2 separate regions of the Homo sapiens genome follow, and region 1 is linked to region 2. Evidence: fine-mapped expression QTL. Tissue or cell type: whole blood. Region 2 holds a variant in brackets; the other region holds the start of a gene. All regions are shown on one strand. Distances are from middle to middle.

The links. PIP is the estimated chance that this variant, and not a neighbour inherited with it, causes the effect.
Region 1: it holds the start of PTPN12, and the variant in region 2 is fine-mapped to the expression of PTPN12 in whole blood (INTERVAL, PIP 0.96).

What each region holds. Positions count from the first base shown.
Region 1 is chr7:77,534,140-77,542,245 of GRCh38, forward strand. PTPN12 (protein tyrosine phosphatase non-receptor type 12) reads left to right here and starts at 3,156. Exons shown (of 18, transcript NM_002835.4): 1 at 3,156-3,506. The coding sequence starts at 3,408. LOC124901681 (a long non-coding RNA gene) reads right to left here and starts at 2,810. Exons shown (of 3, transcript XR_007060395.1): 1 at 2,232-2,810; 2 at 70-2,142. RefSeq lists enhancers at 2,236-2,285, 2,456-2,675, 5,829-6,410 and silencers at 2,746-3,045, 3,296-3,505, 3,646-3,695.
Region 2 is chr7:77,607,922-77,616,027 of GRCh38, forward strand. It overlaps PTPN12 (protein tyrosine phosphatase non-receptor type 12), which reads left to right. Exons shown (of 18, transcript NM_002835.4): 10 at 2,844-2,921; 11 at 3,027-3,125. Among named protein-coding and RNA genes, the nearest start is that of PTPN12, 75 kb to the left of the region's middle. The variant A/AT (reference allele first, on the strand shown) is at 3,628.

The DNA.
Region 1 (8,106 bases), 74 kb before region 2:
CGGGGTGGCTGCCGGGCGGAGGGTCTCCTCACTTCTCAGACGGGGCAGCCGGGCAGAGACGCTCCTCACCTCCCAGACGGGGTGGCAGCCGGGCAGGGGCGCTCCTCACATCCCAGACGGGGCGGCGGGGCAGAGGCGCTCCCCACATCCCAGACGATGGGCGGCCGGGCAGAGACGCTCCTCACTTCCTAGATGTGATGGCGGCCGGAAGAGGCGCTCCTCACTTCCCAGATGGGATGGCGGCCGGGCAGAGAGGCTCCTCACTTCCTAGATGTGATGGCGGCCAGGCAGAGACGCTCCTCACTTCCCAGACGGGGTGGCGGCCGGGCAGAGGCTGCAATCTCGGCACTTTGGGAGGCCAAGGCAGGCGGCTGGAAGGTGGAGGTTGTAGCGAGCCGAGATCACGCCACTGCACTCCAGCCTGGGCACCATTGAGCACTGAGTGAACCAGACTCCGTCTGCAATCCCGGCACCTCGGGAGGCCGAGGCTGGCGGATCACTCGCGGTTAGGAGCTGGAGACCAGCCCGGCCAACACAGCGAAACCCCGTTTCCACCAAAAAAATACGAAAACCAGTCAGGCGTGGCGGCGCGCGCCTGCAATTGCAGGCACTCCGCAGGCGGAGGCAGGAGAATCAGGCAGGGAGGCTCTTTTTTTTTTTTAGAGACAGAGTTTCGCTCTTGTTGCCCAGGCTGGAGTGCAATGGCGTGATCTCGCTCAATGCAACCTCCGCCTCCTGGGTTCAAGCAATTCTCCTGCCTCAGCCTCCTGACTAGCTGGGATTACAGGCATGCGTCACCACGCCCGGCTAATTTTTTGTATTTTTAGTAAAGACGGGGTTGGTTTCACCATATTGGCCAGGCTGGTCTTGAACTCCTGACCTCAGGTGATCCGCCCGCCTCGGCCTCCCAAAGGGTTGGGATTACAGGTGTGAACCATCGCGCCTGGCCTTTTTATTTTTATTTTTTGAGACAGACTCTCGCTCTTTCACCCAGGCTGGAGTGTGGTGGCACGACCTCGGCTCACTGCAATCTCCGCCTCTCAGGTTCAGGCGATTCTTCTGCCTCAGCCTCTGGAGTACCTGGGACTACAGGCGTGCACCACCACACCCGGCTTTGTATTTTTAGCAGAGACAGGGTTTCACCATATCGGCCAGGTTGGTCTCGAACTCCTGACCTCAAGTGATCCACCCAACTCGGCCTCCCGAAGTGCTAGGATTACAGGTGTGAGCCACTGCACCTGGTCTGAAGTGCATATTTCTGGAGTGGATGTATTAGTTGGATTATTTTAACAGAAATATTTTCCTTTTTTTGAAGAAGTAAATAAACTATATCCTGTTACACCTATTTTCTTTTCTTTTTTTTTTTTTTGAGACAGGGCCTCACTCCCGTCGCCCAGGTTGGGGTGCAATGGTGTGATCACAGCTCACTGCAACCTCCGCCTCCCGGGTTCAGGTGATCCTCCCATCTCGGCCTCCCAAAGTGCTGGGATTACAGGCGTGAGCCACCGCGCCCGGCCTACACCTATTTTCTTCAATGAGTTTTTCACTAAATTCCATAGTGCTCCTAACTTTCATCTGAGAAAGTATTCTACCACTGATATTTCCTATTATAACCAAATTCGCTGACCAATCTGCTCTGTAAAAAAAGGTTTGTGGGTATAAATGACGAAAGTCAGTTCATGGATCAAATCCTTCAGTTCTGTCACATTGTGAGAGGCCACTGTTGTGAAAGTAAAATAACTTCTAGTTACGGCTCTGCTAAGAATACGCTGGGGGATGTCAGGAAGTCGCTTTATTTGTAAAATGATGAGTTAGACCAGAATATATTCTCTGATAGAAGTTTACAAAGATGAATAAAGATTTATAGGCTAGGCGCGGTGGCTCACGCCTAAAATCCCAACACTTTCGGAAGCTGAGGATCCCTAGTGCACAGGAATTCGAGATCAGCCTGGGCAACCTGGTGAGACCCCCTTCTCTACCAAAAATAAATAAATAAATAAATAATAAATTTTTAAAATGTATTAGCTGGGCTTGGTGACGTAGTGAGGCAGGAGGATGCCTTGAGCCCAGGAGTTCAAGGCTGCAGCGAGCCGTGATCATAGCACTGCACTTTGGCATGGGAGATAGAGCAAGACCTTAGCTCTAAAAAAAAAAAAAAAAAAAAATTAATAGATTTATAAAGTCCATTCTATGGAGGAAAGTCTCTTATTCAGTTATGAACTGCTGCGAACCTAAAGGCAGGAAGGCAAATTCCCTTCAGTTCGGCAAACACGAAGACCCCACATTCGCGTCGTCTGTGAAGAAGGCACTCCGAACCTCAGGCGCTCACTCGCCAGGTTTAAGAGGATGAGCAAAGAATAAAAGTCCTCTCACCCAGGAAGCGTTTCGCTTCCCTTAGCTGGAGCCACGCTCCAAGGTGCCAAAGCCTAATTGCTGTCCACTCTCACCAATCCGTTAGCAAGATGAGCATCTACCTGCTGCGAACGTGGCGGTGACACTACTACAGCTCCCAGCCTGCCTCCCGCCCGCCCCCACTCCTGGACTCCACAGACCGTGACTTGTAGTCCCAGCCCACGGCTGGCGGCGGTGCGGGACTCCTGAAAACTGCTTTTCCTCCCTAGTAGGCGGTGAGACCGCAAATTCCATCAGAATCCTACTCTGACCCACTAGGGCTTGGCCCGCTCAGAGTCGCATTCCCTCCTCCAAATGAACCAACTCTCCTCCCAGCGATACTCCGACCTCTGAGCACCCCGGGCGGGGCCACGCCCCGGAAATGGAGTCAGGTCTCCAGGCCGCCCGCTGAAGTGCCTTCCAGCCACTCCAAGCGGGGCTGGGGCCGGCGGGGCGGGCTTGGGGGCGTGGCCGGGAGGCGGGCGGGGATGCATCTGCGGGCGCAGCGCTTGGGGCGGAGCCGCAGCGCGAGGCCGCGCATCTGGGTGGCGGCGGGGACGCGCCCGTGGGGAGAGGCGGCTGCGGCTGCGGCTGCGGCTGCTGGCGGGGGGTGGGGGGGAGGAGGAACCGGGAAGGGGGGGCAGGGCGAGCGGAGAGCTAGCTGTGTTCCTGAGGCGGCGGCGGCGGCGGCGGCGGCGGCGGCGTCTCCGACGGAGGAGGAGGGCGGGGAAGGAGGATGGAGCAAGCTGGGGGTTGGGGTTGGCGCTAGCGCAGCGGCTCGCCTGGTACTGTGGGAGAGCGGCGGCTGCTCCTGGAAGTTGTGGTGTCGGGAGCCCAGCCGGTGCCGCCGCAGCCGCCGCCTAGGGCGGTGGGGAGGAGGAGGGAGCCGCGGGGCTTGGCGGGGTCGGGAGGGAGGGACGTGCTGGGGGAACGAGCTGGGGAAGACGGAGCGGGCTCTGTGCCGGGCGGGCGGGCGGCGGGGGGGCCAGCGACCGCAGCCGGGGGGACGCGGGAGGATGGAGCAAGTGGAGATCCTGAGGAAATTCATCCAGAGGGTCCAGGCCATGAAGAGTCCTGACCACAATGGGGAGGACAACTTCGCCCGGGACTTCATGGTGAGTCTCTCCCCTCGCTGTCGCGTTTTCTTGCCGGCGCCGGAGCCCATCGCCGCCTCTCCCGGCCGGGCCGCCAGTGCTTTGTGTACCTCTGTGAGGAGAGGGGCGGAGGGGGCGCGCACCAGCCGGGTGAGCCGGGTGGTCTCGGAGGCCAGCGGGAGGCGAGAGCGCCTCCCCCCGTGGCCTCCTTTCTTCTCCCATGTTCGCGACCCCCGCGCGGGTTCCCGGGACGCGAAGGGAGCGGCCGCGCGGCCGAGCCCGCAGCCTGCACCGTGGCTCGCGACCACCTATTGTTTACCGGGCCGGGAGCCGTAGGCAAGTGAGGTGCAGGCCGGGGGGGGGGGCTCGCGTTTCCACACCTCCCCGCGCAGTTCGCTCCTCCCAGGAGGGTCGAGGCAAGGTATCTGGCTGTGACCGGGAGGAGTGCAGATCGTGGCTGACAGAGGAACGGGGGTATTGAGGTTGGCACTAACTCCTGGGATCCCTTTGCTCTAGCTGGTCTCAAAGCGGGCAGGGTAGGACTTAGGCCGTTTCTGGGGTCGCAGTCATGATCTCCAACGCTTGGGAAAGGATTGCCCATAAGGAATCTCATGGGTTTACCTAATTTCCATTTACCCGCGTCCCGCTTCTCCTCTCCTGAGGCCCAGGTTTGAGGTGGTCTTGGGGTCCGTGTGACTATAGGTTCAGGGGATAAGTGTGGGTGGGGGAATTATCCTGAAGGAAGCCAGCCGACTTCGGACTCCCCAGGGGATATTGCCGAAGGCGGAGGGGATGTGACTATCACTTCCTATCCGGGGTGGGGGTGGGGAACTTGGGAACAATAGTCCTGGTGGGGCGGAGGCGACGCTACGGGCCGAAGCCCTGAACTGGGAGATAACCTTCCCAGCGCCCCCCCGCCTCCGCCACCCCCTACTTTCCGCCCTCTGCTTGTGCAGGCAGTCTTGAGAGGAGGTGAAGGTTAAAAGTCTTGTTCATGAAATTGCTCTAGATACACTATTGCTTTAGCACACTGTGAGGGGGTCAGATCCGAAGGCGTGAGACCAGAAGTCGACTTCCTACGTTACCCACCCCCCCAACCCCCGCCCTTTTTATTTTTCTGCTGGACAATGTTCCCTCTAGGGTTGTTTCCCGGCTTAGGAGGCGGTGGTTGCGGCTGCTGCTCCTACGGATATTGCGCAAGACTGGGGCGTTGGAAACCCTGTAGGTCTGGGGAATGAAAAAGGAAGTGGGACTTTGGGAAGTGGTTGCTCCTTAGTCTTGGCGGGGGTTGGGAATGGGAAATAAGCTGGGGAAAATTTTTATCTTGGGTAAGGTACACCTCGAAGAATAATCACTTAATTCTGAAATCTGATTATGAGAAGGATACACAGTTAATGCCTGTAAAATGAATGGGCAGCAAACATTGGCTAGTTTTTATTTTTTGTTTAAAAAGTACAGTAGTTTTTATGGTGGAGGTGATATGACTTAGTAGTGAATACTTTTTCACGTTTTAAAGAGACTGGTCTAGTAAAGCTTTAGCGTTAAATTTTTAACAGCTTATAAAATAGGCCCTTGACCATACACAGTATTATACTAGCATCGTTGAGCTTTGTGATTCCCGCCTCCCCAGACCAATAATAGAGGACGGAAGTAAAGTTTTCTCAGTATCTTTTGAAGATTGAAAATATAAGTTAAATAATCTAACTTATTCCTTATTAAAAATAAAAATATTGCTTATATTTAAACATTTGCTCTTGATATTTAGCCTATGTATTTTTGAAAAATTACTTTTTGATCTGAAAGGGTTAAGGAAAACGGCATTTTCCCTTTTTACTATTGAGAGTTTTTATTGTCTTGGTATCTTTTGAATGGTGTCATTTACAGCAATTGGATGGAGTCCCTTTTTTACTACTTTCTAGCAAAAGTAGAAGAAAATACTTTGAATATTTAAGATGTTTAAAACTAGTTTTTTTGGGTTTTGTTGTTTGGTTGGTTGGTTGGTTGGTTTTTTTTTTGAGACGGAGTCTCGCTCTACGCTCTGTCGCCCCGGCTGGAGTGCAGCGGCGCAATCTCAGCTCACTGCAACCTCTGCCTCCCAGATTCAAGCGATGCTCCTGCCTCAGCCTCCTGAGTAGCTGAGATTATAGGCACGTGCCACCACGCCCGGCTAATTTTTGTCCGAAGTAGCCGGGACTACAGGCGCAAGCTACCACGCCCTGCTAATTTTGTATTTTTAGTAGAGATGGGGTTTCGCCATATTTGCAGGCTGCTCTCGAACTCCTCATCTCAAGTGATCCATCTGCTTTGGCCTCCCAAAGTGCTGGGATTACAGGCGTGAGCCACCATGCCCGGCCTAAAACTAGTTTTTTACCGTCTTACTTTGGTTATGGAAGAAGAGATGGTGTGGTCCCTGGTCATTTCTTGTTTGCATGCTAGTCACCTTGTTATCCCTAGGCATATACCGTCAGGAAGGAGCATTGTTTGGTGATGCGGGCCATCAGGACAGGTTGCCCAGCCTCTGAACTCCTGTACTGGAGAAGTGGCCTTAGGGTTCATGCTTTGGGGATGAGTCAGGGATTCCTATTGGAGAGTTCATTTCTTTCTTTCTTTCTTTCTTTCTTTTTTTTTTGAGATGTAACACCTCGCTGTGTCGCCCAGGTTGGAGTGCAGTGGCTCAATCTCGGCTCACTGCATCCTCCACCTCCCAGGTTCAAGCGATTCTCCTGCCTCAGCCTCCTGAGTAGCTGAGATTACAGGCGCATGCCACCACGCCTGGCTAATTTTTGTATTTTTAGTAGAGATGGGATTTCACCATATTGGCCAGACTGGTCTTGAACTTTCATCTGACTGACTTTGTGATCTGCCCGCCTCAGCCTCCCAAAGTGCTAGGATTACAGGCATGAGCCACCGAGAGTTCATTTCTCCAAGAGTAAATGAGTTTCCTTTTTCTTCCATGATACCTAGGTATAGCTAGGTGATTCTACATTAGAGATTTGATGACTAAGGCTATTCTTTTATAGGGCTTTTTTTTTTTTTAATTTCCTGACTTGATAAGCAATAGCTGTAATTAAGACAGCCGGTAGTTGGTGCTGCTTTTTCCCCTGACTGGAAGGCTGGAGAGGAACTATGTTCTCCTGGCATGGAAAGAGAAAAAAAAGATTAGCTTATAGATTCTATTATTTTTAAATTCTGATGTCGATTAAAAATGCATTTTAAATTCTTAACATTTTATGACTGAGCCTTAGAGATAATGTAGCTGATATAACTGTTCCATCATAAAATAATGTTTATTCCAAATTTGGAAATTAATAGAATAATAATAATGCCTTACACTTAGACCACAGTTCAAATGAACACTCCACTTGCCTGACTGGTGATGATGCTCTTTTCGCTCTATCCAGCTGTCCTACAGTCCTGTCATTTAAAGGCTACCTCTGTTAATATTTTTTGGTTTTGTTTTGTTTTGTTGTTTTGTTCTGTTTTTGAGACAGGGTCTCACTCTGTCACCCAGGCTGGAGTGCATGGTTGCGATCCTGGCTCACGGCAGCGTCGGTCTCCCTGGGCTCAGGTGATCCTCCCACTTCAGCCTCCAGAGTAGCTGGGGCTATGGGCCCACCCCACCAAGCCCTGCTGATTTTTGTATTTTTTGTAGAGACAGGGTTTCCCCATGTTGCCCAGGCTGGTCTCAAACTCCTGGGCTCAAGCAATCCACCTGCCTCAGCCTCAAAGTGCTGGGGTTACAGGTGTGAGCCACCGTAGCCGGCCTACTACTTGGTAACTATCTTATATCTTAATTTTGTTTCTTTATGTTTGAGTATTTAGGTCATTCTACTTTCTGCTGTTACATATAGTAATTCTGTGATTAACATTTTTGCTGAAACTGACATTTTTCACTGTTGCATAAGATAGCTTCCCAGGAGTACTAGGTAGACGTATATAAACATTTAATACATGTTCATAAACTTGAAAAAGTTTTGTCAGTTTATACAACTGTCATAATGTATGAGTGTTCATATTATAATTTTCTTGATCTTTATTTGATGGTTGAAAACTGATATCTTGTTTTAACTTGAATTTCTTGATTACTATTGAGGATAGAAATTTTCCACCTGTCATTACTATTCTATGAGTGTCTATTCCTGGCCTTGGTTGTGCCCCATACTGTTAAAGAGGAGACAGCTAAGGTACCCAGACTGTGCAGAACTATGTTGCCTAGATGGTTATTTGCATGTTGAAAACATGCTAATTTTGCTAATAAATTAGCAAATAGCTAATTTGTGGCTGATCCAGAATTTGATCTCAATTATCTCTACTTTTAATATTTACAAAATGAGAGATAAATGTATAAAGTAGGGTGGTGCACATTCATGTTTGACAGACCTAGGTTTTAACTCCACACAGACTCCCTCTGATGGCTGGGGGTTGGGGAGGTGGTCCTGGACCATACTTTGAGAACCAGTGAGCTAATACATGGTAAATGATAAAGGTAATGCTGGGAAAGTTAGGTAGAGGTCTTTTTGTGAAGGATCTTACATCTATGCTATACTTAGATTTTATTCTACAGACCGATAATAGCAATTCTGGACAGTCTGCATTGTAACTCCTAGAGACATGGAGAAAG
Region 2 (8,106 bases):
GTTTTATATTTTTGGTACAGACAGGGTTTCACCATGTTGGCCAGGCTGGTCTCGAACTTCTGACCTCAGGTGATCCACTCATCTCGGCCTTCCAAAGTGCCGGGATTGTAGGCGTGAGCTACGGTGCCTGGCCCATTGCCTTTTATGTTTACTCTAGGTATAAGTGTATTTCACTCAGTATGTATTTATGCCTGCTGGAGACATTATAGTATTGTAGTCTATGAATGCTGACTCGAGCCAAATTGCCCAGATTATAATTCTGGCTTTCTCATTTACTAGCTGTGGGATCTTGGTCAAAATACTAATCCCATAGTGCCTCTATTTCTTTATCAGAAAATAGGGGTCATAGTAGTAGTAATGCATAAGAATTAAATAACTTTTGTGAAGTTCTTCAGAACTATGTGGTAAATTGTAAGTACTCAGTTTATTGTTAGTGTTGATTACTGTTGCTGTTGTGATTGTTGTTCCTACTACTGCTTTTTCCAAGAAATAGTGTTTGATACTGTGGATGATACAGAGATAAATAAGATACAGCCTTCATTATAGATTTGAAAAACAAGTCTCTTCATTATGTATACATTTGATTCTTTTGCTGGTTCCATAATGTGTTCATTTCTAGAGAGGCGCCTTTAATCCTTCATAGCTTTATAGTTTCCATGAATTGTTCATCTTTGTCTTGTACAGAGTAGAATTAATAAAATGTTTATTTTTTCTTTTTCTTCCTTCTTCCCCTTATTTCTCTTTTTTCCCTGCCATCTCTCCATTTTTTATTGTTGCAAGGAAATATTTACATGTTAAACAGTTCCTTAAAAAGCCCTCTGGGGTTAAATATTTTTTTCCTCAAAAACTATAATCATCTAATTCTCAAATGAAAATGCTTAAGTGAACAAAATTTAACTGGAATTCGATCACATTTTAACATAAAAGTCAAAGATTAAAATTGGAATGAGAAGGGACACATAAATGAATGCTAGCAAACAAAACAAACATTTGGTCATTTTAAAAGTTGTGTATTTTGGATAGGTGCCATGGCTTATGCCATAATTCCAGCACTTTTGAAGGCTGAGGTGGGCGGATCACCTGAGGTCAGGAGTTTGAGACCAACCTGGCCAACATGGTGAAACCCCATTTCTACTAAAAATACAAAAATTAGCCAGGCGTGGTGGCCGGCGCCTGTAATCCCAGTTACTTGTCAGGCTGAGGCAGGAGAATTGCTTGAACCTGGAAGGCAGAGGTTGCAGTGAGCCGAGATTGTGCCATTGCACTGCAAACTGGGTGACAGAGCAAGACTCCGTCTCAAAAAATAAAATAAAATAAAAGTTGTGTATTTTGAACATAGTTCTCTCTCTCTCTTTTTTTTTTTTTTTTGAGATGGAGTCTCACTCTGTTGCCTAGGCTGGAGGGCAGTGGTGTAATCTCGGCTCACTGCAACCTCTGACTCTCAGGTTCAAGCGATTCTCCTGCCTTAGTCTCCCGAGTAGCTGGGATTACATGCACGCGGCACCATGCCTGGCTAATTTTTGTATTTTTAGTAGAGATGGGGTTTCACCGTGTTTCGGGCTGGTCTCAAACTCCTGACCTCAGGTGATCCGCCTGCCTTGGCCTCTCAAAGTGCTGGGATTACAGACATGAGCCACTGCACCCGGCCTAGTTGTTAAGTCTTCATGTAAAAATCTTGGCTGGGCGCGGTGGCTCACGCCTGTAATCCCAGCACTTCGGGAAGCCGAGGCGGGCGGATCACGAGGTCAGCAGATTGAGACCACCCTGGCTAACACGGTGAAACCCTGTCTCTACTAAAAATATAAAAAAAATCGCCAGGCGTAGTGGCGGGGGCCTGTAGTCCCAGCTACTCCGGAGGCTGAGGCAGGAGAATGGCGTGAACCCGGGAGGCGGAGCTTGCAGTGAGCGGATATCACGCCACCGTACTCCAGCCTGGGCGACAGAGCGAGACTCCGTCTCAAAAAAAAAACAACAAAAAAAAAACCCAAAAATCTTATGATGTATATAAGGACTTCCAAGCAGCAAACCTGGAAATCATTTTTAACCCTTCCATCTTAATCACTCCAAAATATTCTTGTTGATAACAGTTATGATATTTCTGCTTCTGTAAACCTCCGCCAGTTTCTCACTCTTTCAGACTGTCCTCTTCCTTGATACAAAAATTGTGTGAATATCAGATCTTCTCATGTCAACATTGCCTATTGCAGTAGTCGCAATTCCATATACACAAAAGAATTGTCTAGGTCGTTTCATAATTAGTTCCCCAACTTGGAGCCAAAGGATCTATATTTTTACCTAGGTCTTTTAGCTGGTCCTTATATAGCCAATCCAGGAGATACTGGCCAATAGAATAAATTCAGTCTCTTTATTATGTTCACAGTCTGATCCTAAATATCCTTATCTTCTCTCCTCCTTTGAGTACCTTCTCCTTCTTTTAGTCTTAGGCTTTGTTTACATCAAACTTCTCAATTCCCCACATAGATTATACATTGAATCTGCTGTGCTTATGTATATTTCCTTCACTTTTTATGGGATAACCTTCTTTTGATATCCAACTATGTTGTAGCTGCACACACTCAACAGTTAGCCATAGCCTCTTTATTCCCTGTATACTGCAGTCATACTTTGGCTGGACATAACTGTCTCCCCATCTTGAATGCTGAGGGTCAAGAACAGTTTTGTTTCCACAGTGCCAAGCACAGTGTCTGAGATGCATTAAGTGGTGTTCAATAAATGTTTGCAGTAAACCAGCAGGTATTTAAGTTTTATGTGAAAAGCTGAAGAAGATTTTACTATTTTCTGAATAGATACACAAAGTTGATGTATTAAATTTTCTGTTTTAGAAAATACCAGAGGAATTTAATGTATTTAATTTAATACAAGAAATGAGAACACAAAGGCATTCTGCAGTACAAACAAAGGTATAGTTGTTTGTTTCCCTTTATAAACTGCTATTTTATAAATGCTTTCTTCTTTTTTAAAATGTTGTTTTCATTTTGTTTTTTAATCATTTTTCTCCTTCATAGGAGCAATATGAACTTGTTCATAGAGCTATTGCCCAACTGTTTGAAAAACAGCTACAACTATATGAAATTCATGGAGCTCAGAAAATTGCTGATGGAGTGGTAGGTGTTCTTGGTCTATTAATTTTAGGAAACTTTTACTCTTTGTTAAGATGTAATATTTAGCCTTTTTTTTGTTGTCTTGTGTTTTGTCTAACATGAGAAGAATATCCAGGACACTTAACATTTTTACTTAAACTCATTTCCTTCTTATTCGTATCTGTATTATGATGGCTATTTAATGACTCCGATATAAGGTAAATTATGTTCTAAATGAAATAAAGTTAGGAAAGATCTCATGTCAAAAATCATATAATTCGTTAATGTTTTACTTTTTTAAAAAATAATTGCATTGTTCTCTTTACTCTTCCCTTCCACCCCCACCCAAGTAATTCTGCATTGATTCTACTTGAATTTCATTTTGTATAAAGTGTTTTAGTTATTTGTGTATATGCTTTTCTTTTCTTTTCTTTTTTTTGAGACAGAGTTTCACTCTTGTTGCCCAGGCTGGAGTGCAATGGCACAGTCTCAGCTCACTGCAACCTCTACCTCCCAAGTTCAAGTG[A/AT]TTTTCCTGCCTCAGCCTCCTGAGTAGCTGGGATTACAGGCGCACGCCACTGTGCCCAGCTAGTTTTTGTATTTTTAGTAGAGACGGAGTTTCGCCATGTTGACCAGGCTGGTCTCGAACTCCTGACCTCAGGTGGTCTGCCCGCCTTGGCCTCCCAGTGTGCAATGTGCTGGGATTACAGGCATGAGCCAACACTCCTGGCCTTGTGTATATGCTTTTCAGTTAAGCAGAATTAAAGAGCCACAGTTAACTCCCTTTTGTTGTGTTATAATTCAGTGTTATTTTAGCCTTGTAACATCTTACTGGATATTCAACTTCTAGACCTGACAAAAACACTGTATTCTCTTAGTATTCTCATTTCTGCCTTTGTTTTCTAACCAATTGTCTTGCTTCAATTCTATATATAACCACCTTGTCCCTGAAGGTGCTGAGATTTTTTTTTTTTTTTTGTAGAATTTGTTTACATCTTTGTCATTGAGTCTATGATAACTATTACATTGTTAAACCAAGTATGAGAAAATAAGTTGCAAAATTTATAACCTTCATTTTCCTTTTCTCCCTTTAAATGGTTTTGTCAGTTCCCAGAATATTTGTTTGAATTTTCTTGGTTTTCCAAATGACAGATTTATTACCAAATGCTGATCTCAGTTTGTTAGGATAATCTAATATCGGTCCATGAGTTTTAGGAAATATGCATTTCTTTTATTAGCCAAGTGACAATTTCACGTTTTTAAGTTTTATGTGACATCGTTCTTATTCCTTTATTAACATAGGAATTATTGTGCAAGGAAATCCTCCTACAATGCCTTTAGCTTAATTAAATCCTATTATGACATGCTCTGAATCTAGCCAAATATTTTATAATGTAGAATCAAATGTGTTTTTGTTTTGTTTTATTTTGTTTTTTGAAATGGAGTTTCACTATTGTTGCCCAGGCTGGAGTGCAATGGTGCAATCTTGGCTCACCGTAACCTCCGCCTCCCAGGTTCAAGCGATTCTCCTGCCTCAGCCTCCCTAGTAGCTGGGATCACAAGCATGTGCCACCACACCTGGCTAATTTTGTATTTTTAATAGAGACGGAGTTTGTCCATGTTGGTCAGGCTGGTCTCGAACTCCCAACCTCAGGTGATCCGCCTGCCTCAGCCTCCCAAGTGCTAGGATTACAGGCATGAGCCACCGCGCCCGGCCTCGAATGTGTTTTTTGTTTGTTTTGTTTGATTGGTTTTTTTTGTTTTTTGGTTTTTGGTTTTTTTTTTGATGACGAAGTCTCACTCTGTCACTTAGGCTGGAGTGCAGTGGCGCAACCTCTGCCTCCCGGGTTCAAGCGATTCTCCTGCCTCAGCCTCCTGAATAGCTGGGATTACAGGCATGTATCACCACATCCAGCTAATTTTTGTATTTTTAGTAGAGATGGGGTTTTGCATGTTGGCCAGGCTAGTCTCAAACTCCTGACCTCAGGCGATCCCCCTGCCTCAGCCTCCCAAAGTGCTAGGATTATAGGTGTGAGCCACTGCACCCGGCCAAACATTTGTATTATTTTGTATAATTTAATCTAAGTTGAGATATTTAATATTTCGAAAAGCTGAGTAGGCTATAAACAGTTTTCTTTAATTTTTGGGTTTTTTTTTTTTTTTTTTTTTTTTTGAGATGGAGTCTCGCTCTGTTGCCCAGAATGGAGTGCAGTAGCACAGTCTCGGCTCACTGCAACCTCTGCCTCCCGGGTTCATGTGATTTTCCTGCCTCAGCCTCCCAAGTAGCTGAGATTACAGGCGCCCACCACCATGCTCAGCTAATTTTTGTATTTTTAGTAGAGACAGGGTTTCACCATGTTGGCCAGGCTGGTCTTAAACTCCTGACCTCAAGTGATCCACCCACCTCAGCCTCCCAAAGTGCCAGGATTACAGGCATAAGCTACTGCACCCAGCATCTTTAAACTTTAATTGAAAAGCATTTCTGTTTTATTCCATGAATTCAAGATTAATTTCAAAGCTAAAGTTTTTATATCTGGAAATACAGGTTTTTAGGCTGGATGCAGTGGCTCATGCCTGGAATCCCAGCACTTTGGGAGGCCGAAGCAGGCAGGATCACCTGAGGCCAAGAGTTGAAGACCAGCCTGGGCAACATGGCAAAACCCCGTCTCTACCAAAAATACAAAAAAGATTAGCCTCCCAGACTCACGGGTACATCACCTTGCCGAGTTTATTTTTTTTATAGAGATGAGGTTTTACTGTGTTGCCCAGCCTGGTCTCAAATCCTTGGACTCAAGCAATCCATCCGCCTCAGCCTCCCAAAGTGCAGGAATTATAGGCTAAAGTTCTTTTATTGCAATATTCAGTGTTTGGGTTTTGTTTTGTTTTGTTTGAGACGAGGTCTTGCTATTTCACCCAGGCCAGAGTGCAGTGGAACAATCAGGGCTCACTGCGCCCTCAACCTCCCGGACTCAAGCTTTCCTCCTGCCTCAGCCTCCCAAGTAGCTGAGACTATAGGCACATATACCACACCTAGCTAATTAAAAAAAAATTTTTTTTTGTAGAGATGTTGCCAGGTTGGTCTTGAGCTCCTGGGCTCCAACAGTCCTCCCCCACCTCAGCCTCCCAAAGCACTGAGATTACAGGCATGAGCCATTGTGCCCAGCTATTGTTGTATTTTTTAAAACTTTTAACTATATTTAAATAATCTCCAGAAAATATGTGATAAATACCGCATCACCTTTTCATCTTTTTCTAATTAGATCAAAGTCTGATCTTTGTAAGGTTTTATTCCATTGAATCAATCCTTTTTTAATATCCTGAAATCTATACTAGGATTATAATTCTATCATAGGCTCTTTCTGTCTAATAGGTCAGAGCTTTACGGGAATATAATAAAAAAGTCATACTTTGTAGGAGATGAGATGAAATAATACCCATAGCAGATAAGTAGTTAACTTCAAACCTACTTTCGTACCTCATTGCATGGTACATAGTAGACATAAACTAAATGTTTGAGAGAAATCTCTCCATAGATGAATGGATAAATAGTAAAAAAAAACAGAAGAAAAGATGGATTATCATTCCAGATAACTTTTTAGTATTTTCTTCTTAAGAAATCATGTTTTCTGTAAACTTGTAAATATAGGTGACTCTTTTTATAGGATGGCTGTCTGTGGTTGCAGACCATAAATCTTAAAGAAAATGTGGAATCTGAAAAATTGAGAAAAATCATCTTAGAACTGTGTGGTTGAATGAAATGACTTGAAAGGTGTATTAACTATTTAGAAGCTATGCTGTGAGAAGTAAAAATAAGTCCCCACTTACTACTTTTCTGACAATTTAATCGGTAAAAGTTTTGTTTAAATGTTCTGTGTTCCAGTATTATTTCTGTAGAAATTTTAGTTTGATATACTAGTTGGTTGTTTAAGACTTTAAAATGAATAGTGTTTTTTAGAGATATTTATAACTACAGTGACTTCCTGGAGTGAGAGATCTAAAGAGAAAATTTATTCTGTAAGCCTGTATCATATTGACTGAGGATTTAGAGGTACCTTAATAAGCAAACATCTGTTAAGTTGTGCAGTGTGCCTTTTTATCTTGTGTGTAAAGGACACCGTTACAAGTACTGTCAACACCAGTATTTCAGTTCTAGAATGATTAAGTAATAGCAATAACAGTTTGTATTATCGTCCTTTTATTGTGTTTGTATAGTACATTTTAGATGTGATAATGAATTCTGGATTTTTTTTCCTAAAATATAATTTTTTTATTTTTAAAGCACCCTGATTTATAATTTATTTTCTTCTGCAGCTGATAATATTCTTAAATATTAGATAATTTGTTTCTTAATGTTTTTGTAGCATTTCATAAAGCTGTTATATGGAAAATAACAGTACGCAAGATAACTTTAGAAAGTTCTGTTTAAAACAAGAGAACACAGGCTAGGCGCCGTGGCTCATTTCATGCCTATAATCCCAGCTCTTTGGGATGCCAGGGCAGGAGAATTGCTTGAGACCAGGAGTTTGAGACCTGCCAGGGCGACAAAGCGAGACCCCATCTATACAAAACAATTTTTTTTTAATTACCTGGGTATGGTAGCACGTGCCTGTAGTCCTAGCTACTTGGGAGGCTGAGATGGAAGGATTGTTTGAGCCCAGGAGTTCAAGGCTGCAGAGGTATGATCATGCCACTGCATTAGATTATTTAATTCCTAAAATTCTTTTCCATTTCAAAAGTTGGTGATTGCTTCAGCAAGTTGTATACATGACAAATGTGGACTCAAAAATTATAGGTAATAAAAGAGAGTCAGAAGATGTGGGTGTGTAGGAGACATTAACTAGGAAATCCAAGAACATTGTGAAGTCCAGTGACCAGGAGGTTTTGTACATGCTGTTTAGGTAGTGGCTCTTTATCGAATTGCAGTTCTGCATTGTCACATTGATTCCTTTCATCAGAGGAAACTCAGTATGTTCTGAAAGCTAATCTCTCCCAGAAGCTCTCTTTTGGT